2 separate regions of the Homo sapiens genome follow, and region 2 is linked to region 1. A link means that fine-mapping ties the variant in region 1 to the expression of a gene that starts in the linked region. Tissue or cell type: lymphoblastoid cells. Region 1 holds a variant in brackets; the other region holds the start of a gene. All regions are shown on one strand. Distances are from middle to middle.

Region 1 (8,181 bases):
TGAGAGTAGTAAGCAGGACTCCTGACCCCTCAGTCTAGCAGGTTGTACAGAGTAGACTGCTTGGTCTCAGGGGACATCACTGAGTCTGGGGGCACTGAGTCAGAGCCAGCTCCGCCTGCCCACCATGACTGGGTGGCTCTTATACACATGTACTCTTCCCATCTCCAGGTCCCAGATGTCGAGGCCTGTCCACTCTCCTTTTCCCCTAGGCAGGGATGGAGGGGCGTGTCAGTCCTGTATAATTTGGAGTGACTGGAGGGGTGGGGGTATTGATGCATGGTATTCCAGTAAACTTCTCTGCTTGTGTCCTAACTCTAGGCTCCCTCATTCTGTCCCGTGCTCATTTGGGTGAAGACCCATCTGTACCCAGTGTAGGTCTGACCCCACCCTGACCCCTCTGCATTTGCAGGTATTGCTGGACATCTTCACTGGGGTGCGGCTTTACTTGCCACCCTCCACACCAGACTTCAGCCGTCTCAGACGCTACTTTGTGGCATTCGACGGGGACCTGGTACAGGAATTTGATATGACTTCAGCCACGCACGTGCTGGGTAGCAGGGACAAGAACCCTGCGGCCCAGCAGGTCTCCCCAGAGTGGATTTGGGCATGTATCCGGAAACGGAGACTGGTAGCTCCCTGCTAGGTTTGCTGTCTTCCCTCTCCCTCAGGCCATACTCTCCTTTACCATACTACTGGACTGGACTCAGGCTGGAGGCAGATAGACACAGTATAGGGGGAATGGGCTTGCTTCTCCCAAACCCACCAGTTCTCCACTGTCTCTTCTGGACCAGGAATTAGTTGCTGTGGGTGCCACAGCTGAAGTCAGTTTGTCTTGCTGGTTTAAATAGATCTTTCAGAGCTGGGTGCTGGGTTTGCCATCTTTTTGTTTTCTTTGAAAAGCAGCTTAGTTACCCTTTTTATAAATAAAATATCTTGCAGTTATCTTTGTCCTTTCCCCACCTACACCCCCAATAATTTCCCTAGAGATTAAGGAGTAAAGGCTGGGCTATGGCAGCTCTGTCCACAAAGCCTTCTCTCCCATCCTTGCCTGTTCCTTTGTACTTCCAGGCTCATTTTAAAGTTGTATTTAAAGGACTGCCCTCGGAAATGCTTCTGTTTAGCGGAACTTGTATTCAGCCTGACACGCTTTGCCAGGAACAAACCTCATGTGAAAGAAAACAAAATGAATTTTTTTACTTTCTTCTCTGTGTTCTCCTATTACATGGTGAGGATCCCCAGTTTGAAGGGAGGGGACTAGGGTCAGGTAGGAAAATGGGGCCTTTATGAAGAAAGGGGAGGTTATTTGGGCCACTCCTCTGGAGGGATAGAGGGCTCCAGGAAGATCTGCATCCCCAAAACCTGGAAACAAGACTGTTCTTTAAGAATAAAAATCCACATGGGGCTTGAGGCCAAGAACAGCCCTTGTTGCCACCAACATGGAGACTTTGTACCATATCCCATTCTTAGTGCTCGAGTGTTCCAACCTGAAGTTGAAGAAGCCACCCTGGCTGCACATGCCATCAGCCATGACTGTGTATGCTCTGGTGGTGGTGTCTTACTTCCTCATGACTGGAGGAATAATTATATGATATTGTTGAACCCCCAAGTATTGGCTGATGAACGTGGGCATCAGAGGCCAGTAGCTTTCTTGGCCTACAAAGTAAATGGACAGTATATTATGGAAGGATTTGCATCCAGCTTCCTGTTTACAATGGGAGGTTTAGGTTTCATAATGCTGGACCAGTCGAATGCACCAAATATCCCAAAACTCAATCGATTTTTTTTCTTCTATTCATTGGATTCGTCTGTGTCCTACTGAGTTTTTTCATGGCTGGAGTATTCATGTGAATGAAACTGCCGGGCTATCTGATGGGTTAGAGCGCCTTTAAGAAGAAATCAGTGGATACTGGATTTGCTCCTGTCAATGAAGTTCTAAAGGCTGTACCAATCCTCCAATATGAAATGTGGGAAAGAATGAAGAGCAGCAGTAAAAGAAATACCTAGCGAAAAAAACAGGAAGCATATTGAAGCTCGGACTAGAATTTCTTCTTGGTATCAGAGAGACAAGTTTATCACAGTATTTTTTTTTTTCCTGCTGACCTATTGATAATACCAACAATGTTGAGTGGCATTTTCTTCTTAGTTTTTAATTTCTTAAAGAAAATATACTCCATATCTGCAGGGAAAAAAATAAAAATCCACACCTGAGAACAGATCCATACAACCTGCTTACAAAGAACAGCTCCTGTGCTACCTGAGGCTGATTTATTTGAAGAACAAAAGGAAGAGAGACAATTTAGTGTAGACAAGTGCTATTCAATAGAACTTTTTGCAGCAGTGGAAATATCCATAAATCTGCAGTATCCAACCAAACTAGCCACAGACAGCTGCTGAGCAATTGAAATGAAGCTGGCACAACTAAGGAACTGAAGTTCTTATTTTAATTCAACTTCAAATGGTCACATGTCACTAGTGACTACCACACTGGACAGTGCAGGTGTAGACGGAGTTCAGATCAGACTCCTGAAACTTAATGGCTCTAACCTTAGGCAAGTTACGTTAACATCTAAGCCTCAATCCCTCCAAGTAGAATGGGTGCACCTAAATCATAGGGTTGTCCTGTTGTCCTGAGCAACATTATGTAAAGCACTTAGCCCAGAGCCTAGCACATAGTTATCTAGAGTTGGGAACGTCACTCCTGGTGTGCATGTCCAGACCCTACCCGGGAGAAGGGCCTAACCTATGACTTTAGAACCCTCAGTTGCAGGTGTGCATGTTCCAGCCAACACTCCACTCTGAGTGCAGGCTCATCAGGACACCATATGGTTGTAAACTGGCTGCCATGTCCCAATCCTTCCAGCTCTTGAGGGTCAGTTCTCACCTTATGAACAAATTAACAGGCTCTGGACCTATAAGATCAAGGACCACTGCGCCCCCTGGCCACCCCACCGCCCCCCCCCAACTTTGATCTGATTGACTTTGGCTTCCACCTACTGTTTAAAATGTGTATGTTGGGGGAGTAGGGACAGCACGGGGGAGGGGTTTACTTTCCTGACTCTAGCCCAGGACATTTGGTGTTTTTGAATAGGCACCATTCAGCCTTGCTTCAGTATTAGGAATAAGATACTTTTTATTCCATCCTCTATGGAGACAAAAAGCTGCTCCTCCTTTGAGTACTGACCTACATAGATTTCCATTTCTCTCTTCAGCCTCAGGCCAAACAAACAAC[C/T]GGACAGGGCAGCAGAACAAGGCTGTCTCCTCAGGATCCTGCCAAAGGCACTGTCCTCTCCAACCTGGACCCAGCCCCACTTGCCCTTATTGGTTGCTTACACCCAGAGTGCACACTCACAGGAAAGGGCCTCTGCTGGCTGCAGGTGATCATCTTGTCCCTTCTCTGCCTTAGTGTGTGTTATTGCCATTTCAATGTCAGTGGTTTTTTATGTATTTTCTTCCAGTCTTTGCTGCTGAGATCTGACTGTATATACTATTTTGTATCCTTTCATGTATTTCTTTCATGTATTTCAATGCAGCCCTCAACATCATCATCATAAATCTCTCCAGCAGAATGCTGGAGGCCTCCCTCTTCTGAACCTCTACATGCTGCTGGCTGGCATCAAGCAGAGGTCATCACTGGGTGCTGAACAGGTCAGCTCCCTAGGGCAATGTGAGCAAAGTGTTGTGGCTCATCCTCGATCCTTTATGCCCTTTTGGCAAGATTCCTTTCTCTTCTCAGTCACAGCAGATGGACACATAATCTTGTTCTCCCAGGGGCTGCATTCTCAGTAGTCTTTTCCCTGCTCCTTGGGCGCCTGGTCAGGGAGGTTTGTACAAGCCTGCGCACACACAGCAGTCTGTCACGAGGCTGGGCCAACCTTTTTTTTTTTTTTAAACAGACTCTTGCTCTGTCATTCAGGCTGGAGTGCAGTGGTGCAATCTCAGCTCACTGCAACCTCTGCTTCCCGGGTTCACAAGCAATTCTCATGCCTCAGCCTCCCAAGTGGCTAAGACTTAACAAACAGGCACACACCATCACTCGCAGCTAAGTTTTTGTATTTTTAGTAGAGACCACGTTTCGCCATGTTGTCCAGACTGGTCTCAAACTCCTGGCCTCGAGTCATCCACGCACCTCAGCCTCCCAAAGTGCTGGGATTACAGGCGTGAGCCATGGCGCCCAGCCTGGGCCAACCTTTTCTGAGCCATAGTCCAGCTGTACTACAGCTGTATCCAAAAGGTACCATGTATCTCCCAGGGTAACCTGAAGACCTAACTGGGCATACTAACTGTCCTCAGATTTCAGTTCTTTAAGGCCCATCTCTTCTAGATCAGTGTAAATATCTGAACTCACTTGGTGCTTCAACCCAATTGGTCTTGGGATTCATCCTTTACCTACCCAGCTCTCATTCTCTTCTAGGTTGTTCCATGGCCTCTTCCATATATTACATTTGTGGTCTTGAGCAAGTTAGTTAGTTACAACAACACTGAGCATCTTGACCAAGGTCACTTGGCCCAACCACAGGCTAATCCCAGGCCATGTGCACATCCCAGGATTAGCTTGTGGTTTATCAGTTGTCAATTTTTTTTTTTTTTTAATACAGGGTCTCACTCTGTCACCCTGGCTGGAGTGCGGTGGCGATCAGAGCTCACTGCAGCTTCAATCTCCTGGCTCAAGTGATCCTCCCACCTCAGCCTTCCAAGTAGTTGGGACTACCCACATGCACCACCATGCACGGCTAATTTTTTGGTTTTTTTGGGTTTTTTGTTTGTGTTTTTTTTTGTTTTGTTTTTTGAGACAGAGTCTCGCTCTTTCGCCCAGGCCGGACTGCAGTGGCGCAATCTTGGCTCACTGCAAGCTCCGCCTCCCGGGTTCACACCATTCTCCTGCCTCAGCCTCCCGAGTAGCTGGGACTACAGGCACCCGCCACCACGCCTGGCTAATTTTTTGTATTTTTAGTAGAGACGGGGTTTCACCGTGTTAGCCAGGGTGGTCTCGATCTCCTGACCTCGTGATCTGCCCGCCTCAGCCTCCCAAAGTGCTGGGATTACAGGCGTGAGCCACCGCACCCGGCCCTTGTTTGTTTTTTTAAGTAGAGACAAGGTCTCACTACATTGCCCAGGTTGGTCTCAAACTCCTGAGCTCAAGCAGTCTTCCCACCTTGGCCTCCTAAAGTGTGGAAATTATAGCATGAACCACTGTCAGGCTCTTTTGTCAGTCCTATCAACCTCTAACATCCTCGCACCAGACAGGACAGGTGTCTGTATTGAAACTTTATTACAAAATTATAAAGCAGAGCTCTGTAACAAAATAATACACATTTGGGTTTGCTTTAACCTCCAAGTAAGTCTGAGAAAATCTTAATAAAAGCCACTTGAAGTAACAATTCACATCCAAGAGATTTCCACAAATTTATACAATGTATATTGAGCACTAGTTCCTGTACAGCTTATTCTTATTAGTTTGGATCCAACTATTCCAATGTATTATGAACCAGTCAGCTATCTGTCTTTTGAAACAAGTCTTAACTGAAATCTCAGAGTAATCAGCAAAAGCTACGGAATAATTCTAAGAATTAGATGTTTCCATATCATTAAAACCAAGGATCCATGAGGGGCAGAAGGGAGGATTCAAAGATTTAAAAAAAATCAAATTTTAGACCTTGGTTAAATATTAACTGGAATGGGATCTTGGAACTCCCAACTTTAATTTGGTGTAATAAAAATGATGCAAAAAAAAAAAAAATCAGGGTTGTTTGACACCTTTTTTCCTAAAGGGAAACCTTCACCAAAAGGGGATAAAAGATTTAAAGGCAAAATGAGTAAACAACCTCAGTTTTAATTCTTACTGAGGTTACTAACCAGCTATCAGTATATTATTTTCGATTTGTGTCTAGGAGGGAAACTGAAGAGGAGGTAAGGCTTCAGCAGAGAAAGCAGGTTGTAAGTAGAGAGCCAGCTTCTGCCCTTAAGTTACTGCTAGATCTTAGCTGAATTGCACATACATAGACCTGTTTTACAGAGGAACTGAGTAGCTGAATGAATGATCCTTTGCTAATTGGTAGGCATTGTAAACTATAGTATTTACTGCCCATGACAAAAGTGGAAAGGGATGTCTTCATGAGCAAATCTGATTCCCCCAACTCCTGCAAAGGCTGTGGTTCAGAATCAAATCATCCAGGACTTTGTATAACATTGAGGTAAGTGGCCCAGTGTTCAGTTGACTAGTTTATGCAGTTATTTCATTCCTCCAAAGGGGTTTAGTGGTTGGTGATGGAAGAAAGCATAAATATGTCTGTACCAATGTAATAAGTCCCTTTAGAGGTTTCCCTCTGCCATCCAGAGTCATGATTGGTTCTAGTCTCAGATTTTTCAGCTGCATGGGAGGGGTAAGGGGTGGGAGGTGTCTGCCAAGGCGTTTAGGGTTTGCATAGTTCATCCATTGGTAATGGGAAAACACTCTGCTTTCCTGATCATGTGTTTTGTGCTTGGCCACGCTTCTGCAGCAAACTCTTAAGTCCTCCAGCTCCTCTAGGGGTGTAAAGACTGTGAGGGCTCAAATACATCACCTACTCATTGCATGGTCCTTCCTAAAGAGCCTAGAAAATGGTTTCTCCTGCTGGGTGTGGTGGCTCACGCCTGTAATCCCAGCACTTTGGGAAGCTGAGGCGGGCGGATCATAAGGTCAAGAGTTCAAGACCAGCCTGGTGAACATGGTAAAACCCCGTCTCTACTAAAAATACAAAAATTAGCCTGGTGTGGTGGTGGGCGCCTATAATCCCAGCTACTCTGGAGGCTAAGGCAGGAGAATAGCTTGAACCTGGGAGGTGGAGGTTGCAGTAAGCCAAGACTGTACCACTGCACTCCAGCCTGGGCAACAGAGTGAGACTCAAAAAAAAAAAAAAAATGCTTTCTCCCTGACCTGCCCCCAAAAATCAGTGGGCTAGGAAAGGGAATGAAAGTAGGGTCTCCTCACTCCCCACCAACCTGGGAAATAAAGACTTGAACTGTCGGCTTACAACAGAATCCAGTCTCATTCAGTACCTCCTGAAAGCTCTTAAGTGCTCTGTCTTAACATTTGCTCTCCAGGAACTTCAACAGCAGTCTGGCCAGAGAAGAGCACAGGCTCTTTGCCTAAATCTATTTCTTCAATGAAACCAAATTTAAAACTACCATGGATAAGGGAGGGATTTCATTTTCAGCGAAAAGTGGCTTAAGACTTCTAGTTGGGAAAAGGATCAGAAGCCAAGCCAAAATTAAGGAGAAGGCCACTGCCTCCACCCATTGCTTCCCCTTTCCGCATAAACTAAGGATGGTGCAAATCAGGTCCCAAGAGAAGCAGCAGCAGGGATTATGCACGCACTATCCCTTGCAGACAGAAACAAATTTCCCAGCAGTTTGGGAGCCTGATGTTTTGTTGGCTCCCAGAGTCAGGTCAGGAGACCAACAGCTTCCAATCCCAGCATTTAATGAAGTGGCTTTTAACAACTTTGAAATTTTTCTATAGCATTTGTATTTCATTTCTCACCAAAGATAAGTTTACTGGTCTAAAATCTGTCCTAAGGACCACTATCGGTCTGGTAAACTAACATTTTTGGTCCAAAGAAACAAATGGATTTAGGCAATGTAGCAAGAGACTTTAGCAAAGATAGTTAAAGCACAGAAAGCCGGAGAGACCAGAAATTTAAATCCGAATGTGCTGGGGAGGAGGACTTCTGATTGATGAAACACATGGGCAAGCATCTCCCATATGGGGTGGGGATGGGTTGGGTACAGGAGGAGGGGTGAAACTGTCTAGGTTCAGGGAGGAAGACAGGACCCAAGTTCTGGAAAGTTCTCTGTTCATCAGTTACCATCATCACTCCAAGATCACTGAACCAAGAACATACCCATGTGATTTATACAAGTTCCCACTGGCCTTGGGCTTTGCCAGCCAAGAGGTACACCCCTGGGAAGACAGGCATGCTCAGGGGTGACATGGCATCTTGCTTGACCTGGTTTTGGGAACCCTGCAATATTTCTACTAGCTTGCTCCTCTGCAAGCTGGCCAACCCTGAGCCCAGACACCCCAGGCTATTTCCCTGTAAGGCACTGAAGAAACCGATGCAAGCTCTCAGGACCGGAAGACATGCACAGCTCGGATTACATACTGCCGGCAGATGGGACATTCATTCATGCGCTTGCCACACT
Region 2 (8,181 bases), 55 kb after region 1:
AGCGAGACTCTGTTTCAAAAAATAAAGTTGGTAGTAATAATCCCAATCACATTGCATGCCCTTTTGCAATGTGATTTTTACCCTCTATCCTTTAGAGGTGAAGTCAATGTCCCCTCCTCTTGTATCTGGGCTATAATTGTGACTTACTCTGACAAAAAGAATGGGGCAAAAGTGATGATGTATGACTGCCAGGCCTAGGTCTTATGAGATCCTGCAGCTTCCATTATGGCCCAGCCACCATGTAAAAGAAGCTCGAGCTAGAATTTTTTTTTTTTTTTTTTTTTGAGACGGTCTCGCTCTGTCACCCAGGTTGGAGTGCAATGGCACAATCTTGGCTCACTGCAACCTCCGCCTCCCATGTTCAAGCAATTCTCCTGCCTCGGCCTCCCAAGTAGGTGGGATTACAGGTGCCCACCACCATACCCAGCTAATTTTTGTATTTTTAGTAGAGACGGGGTTTCACCATGTTGGTCAGGCTGGTCTGGAACTCCCGACCTCAGGTGATCCACTCACCTCGGCCTCCCAAAGTGCTGAGATTACAGGCATGAGCCACTGCGCTCGGCCACTCGATATAGGTTTATAAGTGATGAGAGACCAAGAAAGAGAACTCACAGAGAACCAAGATATCCCAGCCAACAGCTAGCTCCAAAGGTACAGACATGTGCAGCCTTCTTGGATCCTCCAGCTCAATCAGCATCATATGGGACAAAAAAAAATATGTCCTCCTTTCCTGAATTACTAACCCACAAAATCATAGGCAATAAAATGGTTGTCATGTTATGCCACCAAAAGTCTTCGGGTAATTTGTCACACAATAGACAACTGAAACAGTCAGAAATTCAACACTCTCTTGGGCAGTCATTCAAACATTTCCCCACTTTGATGATCAAAAAATTCTTTCTCGTATTCATCAAAATTGCTCCTCCTTCAATTTAAGACCATTTCCTCTTAAATCTTTGAAGTTCATGAAGAATAATTAATAAAAATCCCCCTGGCAAAACTATTCTTGTATTTGAAGATGATAATGAAGTTATCTCTTAGCTTTTCTTTCTCTAGGCTAAAATCTTTCCCCCCTTTTTAAAACTTATAATGATAAGACCTGTTTTTCAACCTTTTAATCATTTTAATTATCCTCTCAAGTATGAGAGACCCAAAATTGAACACCATATGCCAATATCTAACAGAGATTATTTCCTAGCTCTAATGGTTCAGCTTTTTATAATGGAATTTCTCATAGTCCCAAATATGGCATTTTAGCACTCCAAAAGTTGTGAAGTGATCTAAAAAGTTAATTACTTACTATAACTGTAAAAGGTTTTCTGCCCTTAACACTCAGCTTACTCCATTTTGGGATGACCGCTTTCACTCACCAGCCTGGTTTGATACTCCACCAGGGCAGCAGGTTTTCACAACTTCCAGATATTTGAAGTATAAAAGAAAAACCTGAGAGGTTGGAGTACGCACACCATTAATTTCAATCAAGGTCTCTAACCACAACCAGGGCCTTCCCATAGGTCAGGCAGGTTCAGAGTACCTCCTCCTCCTACCTTGATGATAAAGTGGCCTTGTAAAAGGCAAGACCGTTAGCACTTGCCTATCGAGCAAAGGCACCATTTCTGTGGAACCTGATAGAGTATATTTAACTACTATATTAAGAGACAAACCAGCTGCTTAATGCAGTGTAAGAACCATGTTTTCTCTCTGAGTCTTACCTAAATGTATATATGCTTTGGTATCAGACTAGCTTTATAATCACTGGTAAAATAGGGATAATAAATAAAGCCTACCCAACGCAAATAAAACCATATGAGGGAAATAATTTTGTAAAACACCATAAAAATGTCGTGATATTGCGGGACTAGATCTCAGCAAACCCTTTAAATCTTCAAATTAACTTTGAATGATTACTTGATGGTGGCAGGTAACACATACAAAATAAGCAGCCATGGGCTCATGTTCATCAAATAGGAATGAAAAACCATGCCATCTAACAAAAAAGCTTCTAATATTGCAAAGAATAACGGTTTGAGCCCGGAGATCCACGTCAGCCACTCTCTCTGATGGTGCCAAGCTCTAGTCCAGGGACACCAAGTTCAGTCAAAGAACTCAACAGTCTAGTGGAAGAGACAGACAGTGCTGTCTGTCAGAAAAGACAGAGAAGTCAGAGAAGATGCATATATGAACTAAGTGTCCTGAGGGATGAGTATCTTGCCAGTTAGAGAAGGGAGAGTCCATTGGGAAAAGGCAGAGTCCTAAAAGACATGGTATATCCATGGAATGTTAACATGAGAAGTTCAGTGAAGCTGGAGAGGAGAGAAATGGCCAGGGGAGAGGGAGATGAGATGGTTAACAGCAACATGTAGGAAAGAATCCAACTGTGAAAGCTTTTAGAAGTCAAGCTAAGTGGAAAACAGGGAACAAATGGCACCTTAAATGAAAAGATTAGATGTGGACTTTAAAAAGATAACTTGGGCAACAATATGGAGAAGATAGGAGCAAGGAAAGACTTATGGAGGAGTGGCCATTTGATAAGGGTCTGAACTAGGAGTTACAAACTCAAATTCCTAGAGGCAATGCAGGTAAAATGCTAAGTCTTCAGTGTGTAAGATGTCAGAAAATGGTGGTATCCGTAATCTTTGAAGAGTACAGGCCTTCTCTCTGATGGTGCCTAAAAGTATTCACACACAAAATTTTAAGCCCTTAGGCTGACTGATTGATTTTTGGGATGGAGTCTTCTTCTGTGCCTAGGCTGGAGTTCAGTGGCACAATCTCAGCTCATTGAAACCTCCACCTCCTGGGTGCAAGCAATTCTCTTTTCTCAGCCTGCTGGGTAGCTGGTACCACAGGCACTGGCCACCATGCGTGGCGTGCCTTTTTTTTTTTTTTTAAATACAGACAGGGTTTCACCATGTTGGCCAGGATGGTCTCAAACTCTTTTTTTTTTTTGATATGGAGTCTCACTGTTGCTCAGGCTGGAGTGCAGTGGTGTGATCCTCGCTCACTGCAACCTCCACCTCCTGGGTTCAAGTGATTCTCCTGCTTCAGCATCCTGAGTAACTGGGATTATAGGCACGTGCCACCACGCCCAGCTAATTTTTTGTTTTTAGTAGAGATGGGGTTTCACCATGTTAGCCAGGCTGGTCTCAAACTCCTGACCTCAGGTGATCTGCCCACCTCGGCCTCCCAAAGTGCTGGGATTACAGGCGTGAGCCACCGTGCCCAGCCTGACTTTAAACGTCCAGTTTTGACCTCTGGTAAATTAAGGCAATGACAGTGGGAATGAAGAAAAGCCACACATCAAACAGTACTCCAACAAAATCAACAGGGTTTAGCACATTTAAAGATGTGAGCATAAAAAGAATGAACAAGGCCGGGCGCGGTGGCTCACACCTGTAAACCCAGCACTTTGGGAGGCCAAGGCAGGTGGACCATGAGGTCAAGAGATCGAGACCATCCTCGCCAACATGGTGAAACACTGTCTCTACTAAAAATACAAAAATTAGCTGGGCGTGGTGGCACGTACCTGTAGTCCCAGCAACTCAGGAGGCTAAGGCAGGAGAATCGCTTGAACCAGGAAGGCAGAGGTTGCAGTGAGCTAAGATCACACCACTGCACTGCAGCCTGGGTGACAGAGCAAGATTCCTCTCAGAAGAAAAAAAAAAGAGTTGATGAGAGGATCAGAGTTGAGAAAGTACAGTACAGGCTCTTGCTCATTCTACCCTTACTGAGAACCTACTATGTGCAACGTACCATGGATACAATTCTAGCAAAGCAGACCCTGATTCTCAATACATACTATGATTGGAGTAAATACCAGGTTCTCCTGAGTACTCAACCCTGGTAAGTAAGAAGAGGCTTCATGGAAGAGGTGACTTCTAGGCTGAAACCAGTTGGCCAGATTAAGCTTGGGGAAGGTGTGTAAAAGAACGCTTACATATGCTAAGGTCTGAGGTGAAAGAGAACGTGGGCAATTTGTTGGAATTATAAGGAGCAGAAACGTAATTTGGAGGGTGACGACTACCTAGAGATATCATAGTCTGATTAGGTGAAGGACTCAAAAGTTTGGCGATGAAAAGCAGGAGGGAGATAGAGTAGTAGCCTAGTAGAATTAGAGATGAGGGAGGTTCTTCCTATTAATTCAGAAAGGAATATGGGAACAAACTCACTGATAAGACAGTGTTCTCCACAACTCAATATTTAGTTATTAGGAAGGCAACCAAATGCCTTCACTTCTTTTCCTTTAACAATGGCTTAGTTTGACTAAAGTGTTTCTCACAAGATACACACAAAAAAACAAAATACAAGAGCAAATGACGGATAAAGCTGTAAACCTAACGTTTTACTTTTCTAAGATTTATATAATCAGTGATTTAATTGGACCTAACTCCACATCCAGAACTCAAATGAAAGAAAACTTCTGGCCGGGGGCCGTGGCTCATGCCTATAATTCCAGCACTTTGGGAGGCTGAGGAGGGTGGATCACCTGAGCTTGGGAGTTCGAAACCAGACTGACCAACACAGCAAAACCCTGTCTCTACTAAAAATACAAAATTAGCCGGGCATGGTGGCGCACATCTATAATCCCAGCTACTTGGGAGGCTGAGGCAGGAGAATCACTTGAACCCGGGAGGTGAAGGTTGCAGTGAGCCGAGATCACACCATTGCACTCCAGCTTGGGCAACAAGAGTGAAACTCCGTCTCAAAAAAAAAAAAAAAAAAAAAAAAAAAAAAAACCTGACTCACTTCTGAAGACAGGATTTTCCCAGTTTCTAATGCAGCTTCATCTAGCTAATGAAACTTAAGAAAACAGTTTGAGGTTACCTGATTTTGCCAGTTTCAAAACATTGCCACGACAGAAAGCAAGCTGTCTCTAGTTCCTGTGGCTGAGGTCGCTGGAGCCATGTTCAGATGAGATCATCTCAGGAACCAAGAGCAGCGGCTTTCATGTGAAGTGAATGGTGCCGCCTGGGGATGTATCTTTGGTAAGCAAGATTGCAACACAGCAGGGAGTTTACCCAGGGCAGTGCTGACTCACGCTGGGCAAAATTTGTACTTCCCAAACAACTCAGCCTGAACCAACCGCAGTCAACTGCAACCTAGGAAAGAAGAGGCAGCTCACTGATTGTTTTAAATCAAGTGCTGATTACTGGGGGCAGGTAAACCTCATTCCCCCACTACTGGTAACTTGGCCACCTCCAGAGCCCTTACCCAAAAAGTTCCAGTGGCCAGTTTCTAAAATTTCATCTGAGAACAGGCTGGGGCTGGGGCCAGCAAGATTACTGAACATAGCAGGTTCACAGCTCTGAAGATTTCCCCAGGAGGCTGATAAATAAGTCACTTTGCATTTACAAATTAGAACATCTGGGTCAGTGGACTCAGGGAACTTGCCCAGTCATCATTAGCCAGTCAAATCATTAGGGTGAATTTTTGTCAGTTCTAACCAGGCTCATTGTTCTTTTTTCCCACTAGGCCTCCTCTGACCTCTCTATTTCTTCAGACAACTCAAGTTCTCTCATTAAGATAGATGCACTGGAATTTTTTTTTTTTAATCAGCTGCCACATTCTCTATGCTAAAGCCAAATCATTTACCATCACACCTACTGGATGCATAGGGAATACAGAAGACTATGAAAATCACCTTAACACTTGCTCTGAAAAGAGACATCCCTAAATTTATGTCAATTCTCATTTATTAGCCTGCTTATTTAAAAAATCAATCTAGAATGACTGGCTCATCAACAGCTATTAATTACTGAATTTGCCCTGACAGGCTAGAATTGACATTGGTGTTATACAAAAAAAAAAAAAAAAGATCAAGTCCTTGCTTTTTGTGTGCTTTAATTTGACAAGAGAGAAACTAAAGTTCCTATTAGATCCTTCTGTTTCCTGCTTAAAATGTATGACAGTTCCCCAAGGCCATCAGCTATTTCTTAGCAGGGCATTTGAGGCCTCTGCACCCAGCTTCGTTCATCCTTTAAGGTAGGTCTCACATGGCATGAACTCTGGATGTAGCTGCCAACTCAGCTTGTCATTCAATAATGTTAGGTTAATTAAAATGTACGTGCAGACAGAATTTGAGTTTAAAAACTATACTACTTAATTTTCTATTCAAGGGGCTAGTTTTAAAAAGTTATTTATCCAACTCACTTAATTCTCCTTAATTACATTATTCCAGTAGGATAGCCACGCTGAGCTTTGATAAGGTATTATAAAATGTTCCCTGTTTTATTTCCTCCCCTTCAGTGTTTTCCTTTCAGAAAATGGCTTTGTTTAAAGAAGTTTCCCTATAGTACATGTTAATTAGTCCTTTCTGAATGATAAACACATCTTTATAGCAGCTGACAACCATTATCTCTTCAACCACACTTTAAAAAAAATTTCTGTAGTTGATGATAAGTTACAAATTCTAGTATGAAACAACTCTCAAGGTACAGACAAATATGGAACCTCCTTCAGAAAAAAAAAAAATGATTAGAAAAGCTCCTGACCTGTTCTGTATTTGCGAACTTTAAATAAGAGGGCCGGGCACAGCGGTTCACGCCTATAATTGCAGCACTTTGGAAGGCCGAGGTGGGCGGATCACCTGAGGTCGGGAGTTCAAGACTAGCCTAACCAACATGGAGAAACCCCCATCTCTACTAAAAATACAAAATTAGCCAGGTGTGGTGGCACATGCCTGTAATCCCAGCTACTCGGGAGGCTGAGGCAGGAGAATCGCTTGAACCCGGGAGGCAGAGGTTGCAGTCAGCCAAGATTGTGCCATTGCACTCCAGCCTGGGCAACAACAGAGCAAAACTTCGTCTCAAAAAAAAAAAAAAAAAAAGAAAGAGAAAATCCAGACAGTACTATGCCCAGGAGACAGATACGAACTATATAAAGAGCAGCCTGAAGGCCAAAGGCATGGAACTCCTAAGTTGACTAAGAGAAACACCATTGAGCAAGTGAACAGAGCTGCTGCAGCTTATCATTCCCCTCTTTGGGACTCTGATACAGTTTTAACCAACTGCCCCAAATTATAGCCACACTCCATCCTAGTTCTTCCTTTTAAAGTGGAAAGGTTGAGGATTACATTTTAGAGCTTAAAAAGGTACTCGTTTGAACTAGTGGTTTCAGGCACTTGAGGATTTATGAGGTTACATGAAAATTATGAGAATATGAGGCTATGGGAGAAATAATAACTGTGGCTTTCTGACTAAGTTCTTTCAATACATTATTTTAAAATTAGCCAGGCATGGTGGCATACACCTCTAACCCCAGCTACTCTAGAGGCTGGGGCAGGAGAATCACTTGAACCCAGGAGACAGAGGTTGCAGAGCCGAGATTGCGCCACTGCAATCCAGCCCAGGCGACAGAAGGAGACTCCATCTCAAAACAAAAAACAACAAAAACAGAAAATACGTTATTTTAAAACTCAAGTAACTTAACACCCAAAACTATTTATGCTTTTTTTAATAGGGTGGTCTCAACAGATATTTAATGAGTGTGCATATGTGTATGTGCCCATTGTTTCATTTGAACAGACATATGTGATGTCATTGACATCCCAGATTTACTTTCTTTTCTGCAATAGATCTTGACATTATAAACAATAAGCAGGTTTCAAAAGAGAAATTAAAATATCCATTTCTCAGGATTCTGTAGTCTTCCAAATCCACAGAAAATTACCAAATACATACAGAAGATCTGGGAGGATGCACACAGCAGGGAGAGCACTGTAATGGGAATAAAGATCAAATAGCTATGTTTAGCTTTATCCAAATTACCCCCCAAAAATCATGAATTTTTTTACAACAAGCATATATTCAAATATGACTTGGTAGTTTAAAATTCAGTTAAAATTTTAAAGTTTGTATCACTTACAAACTGCTTTACTCTCTCTTCACACTCTTTCCTCTCAACATCTCCCTTTTATCTACTTCCCTACCCCCAGCATCCTAAATGATACTGCACATTTCTTGTTTTTAACAAAATTAATCTTACTTGTGTCCACATCCTTTTTCTAACTGAGAAGTCGGTGAATGGATAAATGCACATTTCCAGGAATCAGTGCCTGTCTCACCTTGTTGATAATTAATGATTGCCAAATTCTAATCTTGGTGTTCAGTGACCTCACAGCCTTTTTTTTTTTTTAACTATAGAACATAGTATTTAAGAAAAACAATATGATGGCAACCAAATATT

Alleles and levels. Alleles are on the strand shown, and positions count from the first base shown. SD is a standard deviation of normalised expression in the study named.
With allele C in place of T in region 1, the expression in lymphoblastoid cells of the gene that starts at base 4,953 in region 2 is higher (small effect, 0.34 SD a copy in GTEx).

What was found. PIP is the estimated chance that this variant, and not a neighbour inherited with it, causes the effect.
Region 2: RFFL starts here. The variant in region 1 is fine-mapped to the expression of RFFL in lymphoblastoid cells (GTEx, PIP above 0.99).

The regions. Positions count from the first base shown.
Region 1 is chr17:35,003,864-35,012,044 of GRCh38, forward strand. It overlaps LIG3 (DNA ligase 3), which reads left to right. Exons shown (of 20, transcript NM_013975.4): 20 at 410-5,880. The coding sequence ends at 643. It overlaps RFFL (ring finger and FYVE like domain containing E3 ubiquitin protein ligase), which reads right to left. Exons shown (of 7, transcript NM_001017368.2): 7 at 2,127-8,181. The coding sequence ends at 8,105. It overlaps RAD51L3-RFFL (RAD51L3-RFFL readthrough), which reads right to left. Exons shown (of 7, transcript NR_037714.1): 7 at 5,249-8,181. It also overlaps the pseudogene OSTCP7. Among named protein-coding and RNA genes, the nearest start is that of LIG3, 27 kb to the left of the region's middle. The variant C/T (reference allele first, on the strand shown) is at 3,230.
Region 2 is chr17:35,058,755-35,066,935 of GRCh38, forward strand. RFFL (ring finger and FYVE like domain containing E3 ubiquitin protein ligase) reads right to left here and starts at 4,953. Exons shown (of 7, transcript NM_001017368.2): 1 at 4,822-4,953. The region is part of intron 5 of RAD51L3-RFFL (RAD51L3-RFFL readthrough); the gene reads right to left. RefSeq lists enhancers at 4,504-5,703, 4,790-5,585, 5,035-5,134 and a silencer at 4,725-4,794.